Regions from separate parts of the Homo sapiens genome. Here region 2 is linked to region 1. The links come from fine-mapping of genetic effects on gene expression. Tissue or cell type: whole blood. Region 1 holds a variant in brackets; the other region holds the start of a gene. All regions are shown on one strand. Distances are between the middles of the regions.

Region 1 (2,500 bases):
GGATCTGGCTTCTCTCACATAGTGTAATGTGCCTTTTTAATTGATAGATAATAATTCTACATATTTATGGGGTACAGAGTGATATTTTGATACATGTATCCCGTGTGTAATGATCAAATCCAAGTAATTAGCATATTCATCACCTCACACGTCTCTGATTTCTTTGTGTTGGGAACATTCAAAATCTTCTCCTCTAGCTATTTAAAAATACACAATAAGCTGGGCCTCGTGGCACACCCCTGTAATCCCAGTTACTTGGGAGGCTGAGGCACGAGAATTGCGTGAACATGGGAGGTGGAGGTTGCAGTGAGCCGAGATCGCACTACACCACTCCAGCCTGGGTGACAGAGTGAGATTGTCTCAAAAAAAAAAAAAGGAAAACAGAAAGAAAAGAAAATACACAATAAATTTTGGACTATAGTCACCCTAGGTGCTATTGAACACTAGAACTTATTCCTCATATGTAGCTGTAATTTTGTACCTGTTAACCAACCTCTTTGTTCTCCCCTTGCCCCTACCCTTCCCAGCCTCTAGTCGTCGCTGTTCTACTCTCCACTTCTATGAGCTCAACTTTCATAGCTCCCACATATGAGTGAGGACATGCAGTATGTATCTTTCTGTGCCTATTTCACTTAACATGATGGCTTCCAGGGTCATTCGTGTTGCTGTGAATTACAGAGTTTCATTTTTTTATGGCCAAATAATATTCCTGTGTGTGTACCATGTTTTCTTTATCCATTCATCCATTTATATACATTTAGATTGATTTCATATCTTAGCTATTGTGAATAGTGCTGCAGTAAACATGGTACTGCTGGTATTTCTTTGATATACTGATTTTCTTTTCTTTAGATGATAACCTAGTTGTGGGATTGCTACATCATATGGTAGTTCTATTTTTAGTTTTTTGAGAAATTTCCATACTGTTTTCTAGAATTGTTACACTAATTTGCATTTCCACCCATAGTGTGTAAGAGTTCCCTTTTCGGCTGGGTGTGGTGGCTCACGCCTGTAATCCCAGCACTTTGGGAGGCTGAGGCAGGTGGATCACCTGAGGTCAGGAGTTCGAGACCAGCCTGGCCAACATGGTAAAACCCCATCTCTACTGAAAATACAAAAATTAGCTGGGCATGGTGGCAGGTGCCTGTAATCTCAGCTACTTGGGAAGCTGAGGCAGGAGAATCGCTTGAACCCAGGAGGCAGAGGTTGCAGTGAGCCAAGATTGCACCATTGCACTCCAACATGGGCAACAAGAGCAAAACTCTGTCT[C/CA]AAAAAAAAAAAAAAAAAGAGTTTCCTTTTCTCTGTATTCTTATCAGCATTTTTTTTCTTTCTTTTTGTTTTTTTTTATTAAGAGATGAGGTTGCCCAGGCTGGAGTGCAGTGACTAGTCACAGGCATGATCATTCTGCATTACAGCCTAGAAGTCCCAGACTCAAGTGATCCTCCCACCTCAGCCTCCCAAGTAGCTGGGACTATAGGCACATACCACCATGCCCAGCCTATTTTTGTCTTTTTGATAGTAGTCATTTTCATGTGGTTTTCATTTGATGATTCCCCTGATGATGAGTGATGCTGAGCATATTTTCACATACTTGTTGGCTAATTTGTGTATCATCTTTTGAGAAATGTCTCTTCAGCTCTTTTGTCCATTTTTTAATTGGATTATTTTCTTTAGCATAATATGTTTGAGGTTCATCCACATCATATTACATGTGGGTAGTTCGTTCCTTTTTACTGCTGAATCGTATTCTAATGTGTGGTTATCTTAACAAGTTGATGGGCATTTGGGTTGTTCCCACTCTCTGGCTGTTATGAATAATGCTGCTCTGCACATTTGCGTACAATTATTTGCGTGGACTTACATTTTTATTACTCTTAGGTAAAATTTTAGGAATGGAATTGCTGGGTCATATGGTAAGTTAGGATTAACTTGATGAGAAACTGCCAAACTATATTCCAGATGGCTGCACCATTTACCTGAGGGTTCTAATTCCTCCACATCTTCTCTGACACTCGGTATTGTCCATCTTTTCTTCTGTTTTCTTTTTTCTTTTTTTTTTTTTTTTTTGAGACAGGGTCTCTGTCACCCAGGCTGGAGTGCAGTGGTGTAATCATAGCTCACTCCAGCCTCAAACTCTGGCCTCAAGCGATCCTCCCGCCTCAGCCTTCTGAGTAGCTGGGACTACAATTGGCCACAACCATGCCCAGTTTATTTAAAATTTTTTTTTTGTAGAGACAGGGCCATGCTGTGTTGCTCAGTCTGGTCTTGAACTCCTGGCTTCAAGTGATCTTCCCATCTCAGCCTCCCAAAGTGCTGGGATTACAGGTCTGAGCCATCACACCTGGCCTATCAGTTTTGTTATAACCCTCCTACTATCCTAGTGGGTTTGAAGTGGTACCTCATTGTGGTTTTAATTTGTATATCCCTAACAGTGATGTTGAGCATCTTTGTACACGCTTATTGGCCATTTGTATATCTATAGTGAAATGTCTATTCAATG
Region 2 (2,849 bases), 97 kb before region 1:
GCCTCCCAAAGTTCTGGGATTACAGGCATAAGCCACCGTTCCTGGCCTCCTAATCTCTTCTTTTAGGGACACCGGTTGTACTGGATTAGGGCCTCCTACAGTGATCTCATTCTACCTTAATCACCTCTCAAAGGCCCTGTCTCCAAATACAGTCACATTCTGAGATATTCGGGGTTAAGGCCTCAATATATGGATTTTGGGGACACACAATCCAGGCCACAATATCTTCTTTCTCTTCCCCCCAACCATCCCAGATTCACCCCGACTCCTTGTGTCTCCGCCAGCCTCTGACACTCACCCTCTCTCCCTCACAGGATTGGCATCTTCTTCTGCCCCCTGCTGCCCTTTATCCAAATGATTATGCTTTTCATCATGTTCTACTCCAAAAATGTGAGTCAGTCCGACATTGCCATCAATCAGCTTTGTTCAGTCACCTGTGACCTGGTGGCGCTTAAAGCTGGGGAAGGGGGCTCTGCAAAGGTGTCAGGAAGCCAGGCCTGGCTGGGGTCCCTCTGCCGCTGCTCCGGCTGCAGATGGGAGGTGGCTGCCTCTCTCTCTTCAGATCAGCCTGATGATGAATTTCCAGCCTCCGAGCAAAGCCTGGCGGGCCTCACAGATGATGACTTTCTTCATCTTCTTGCTCTTTTTCCCATCCTTCACCGGGGTCTTGTGCACCCTGGCCATCACCATCTGGAGGTAGGAGAAGGTGGCCTTGGGGGAGGTTTTAGAGACTGGGTGGATGGGTGTGTGTTTTAAAACGTAGGTTTTATTATAATTCAGGTGTGGTGAGGCCGGGTGCAGTGGCTCACGCCTGTGATCCCGGCACTATGGGAGGCCAAGGCGGGTGGATCACTTGAGGCCAGGAGTTCAGGACCAGCCTGGCCAACATGGTGAAACCCTGTCTCTACTAAAAATACAAAAATTAGCCAAGTGTGGTGGTGCATGCCTGTAATCCCAGCTGCTCTTGAGGCTGAGGCAGGAGAATCACTTGAACCCGGGAGGTGGAGGTTGCAGTGAGCCAAGATTGCACCATTGCGCTCCAGCCTGGGTGACAGAGTGAGACTCTGTCTCAATAAATAAATAAATAAATAAATAAATAAATAAATAAATAAATAAATAAATAAATAATGTAGGTATGGTGAAGCCCAACAGGTCAGGAATGACCATCACTAAAAAGATAGTTTATTACTCACAGTTCCTGAGAAGAGGGGGCACTCTATGCCACAAGGGACCACACAGGGAAGCATCAGGGTTGTTCAGGAGGCAGAGGGAGTGAGGGGAAACGGGCTAGAGGCTTTATTGTGGTTTTCTATGGTAAGGAATGGGCAAGGCAGGGGAAGCAGGTTTAGGGTTGGCTGGTTTGTCAGTAGGCTGTGGGATATGGATCCGCCCTGAGTTGTCTGGCACCTGGCCCTGGGGTGATTAGGGCAGGGGAGTGGTGGCCCAGAGTGTGAGAGCCTGATAAAGGGGGCGGTTGCGGGTGTGGGATCTGGATTGGTTGGTTTGCATTTGAAAGGTGTGCTTTGTAAGCTAGCCCAGGGAAGGGCAGCTAGCCCTGGGAGCTGGAGTCAGTAAGACCCCAGATGTCAAAACATCAGAATAAAAAGACATGCTTAATACAGTGCCTAACTCAAGTTCCCTGGCTAACCAACAGACACTAAAAGCCAGGGAGGGAATGCATCCTAGTTTGATCACCACCCATCCGATGCCCACGGTCAGGAGTAGCTTTCTCACTTCTGCCAAGAACTGAAGCTTCCCAGAATGGGGAGATGCCCCCCCACCCCGTTCCTCCACATCCAGAACAGAACTTCATCTAAATTAACAGAAAGGCAGGACTCATCTGGCTCCTCCCACCTCTCCAACCCCACTTCCCTTTGGCTCCACTGTTCCCCGCCCCACCACCCTCACCCCATTCCTGGAAGCCAGCAAGCCCCTCCCAACAAGGGCAGAGTCCTCTGAGTGAAGTCCTTTTCCCACTCCCTTTGCTTGGCTGCCTCCTCTCCACCCTCTGATTCTCAGCTCCAAGGCCCTCTCCAAGATCTGATCTTCACAGCCCTCCTTGTCTGCTCTCAGTTCCCCACTGCTTCTCTCTCTCAGACCTGAGTTTCTTTCCTTCATTCTATCATTCATAATCAGGAATGCCTCTGTGTGAGTCTTTAATTGTTACTCAACGATTGTCCGTTTTTCCCACCAGAATGTAATCCCAATAGGGCAGGAACTTGCTTAATATGAAGTCCCCAGAGCCTGACTAGAACAGTGCTTAACAGAATAAGCCATGGTTGAATGAACAATTGAATGAATTAATGAACAAGGGAGATGATTTTTAGGACACATGTGAAACTGGGGCTCTCAGTTCCTTGCTCCACAACACCCTTGCTCCTCTTGGCATATCCACTCTCTTCTCTCTCTTCCTTGCTCCACAACGCCCTTGCTCCTCTTGGCATATCCACTCTCTTCTCTCTCTTCCTCACCAGTTCCTTGTTGCCCTATAGTTTCTGCTCATTCCTCCATAGCTAACAGGCTTCCCTCTTTATGCTTCTTAATTCAATTTCTTTCTTTGAGACAGGGCCTTGCTCTGCCACCCAGGCAGGAATGCAGGGGCGCAATCACAGCTCAAACTCCTGGGCTCACGTGATTGTCCCACCTCAGCCTCCCGAGTAGCTGGGACTATAGGCACACATCACCATGCCTGGCTAATTATTTTTTTATTTTTTATTTTTTTGAGACAGAGTCTCACTCTGTCATCCAGGCTGGAGTGCAGTGGCGCAATCTCGGCTCACTGCAAGCTCCGCCTCCCAGGTTCACGCCCTTCTCCTGCCTCAGCCTCCTGAGTAGCTGGGACTACAGGC

Evidence for each region. PIP is the estimated chance that this variant, and not a neighbour inherited with it, causes the effect.
Region 2: TMC5-AS1 starts here. The variant in region 1 is fine-mapped to the expression of TMC5-AS1 in whole blood (INTERVAL, PIP above 0.99).

What each region holds. Positions count from the first base shown.
Region 1 is chr16:19,583,358-19,585,857 of GRCh38, forward strand. All of the region lies in intron 7 of VPS35L (VPS35 endosomal protein sorting factor like), which reads left to right. Among named protein-coding and RNA genes, the nearest start is that of VPS35L, 29 kb to the left of the region's middle. The variant C/CA (reference allele first, on the strand shown) is at 1,270.
Region 2 is chr16:19,486,631-19,489,479 of GRCh38, forward strand. It overlaps TMC5-AS1 (TMC5 antisense RNA 1), which reads right to left and starts at 1,271. Exons shown (of 3, transcript XR_007065016.1): 1 at 1,194-1,271; 2 at 299-690. TMC5 (transmembrane channel like 5) reads left to right here. Exons shown (of 22, transcript NM_001261841.2): 16 at 315-390; 17 at 563-696. RefSeq lists an enhancer at 1,378-2,066.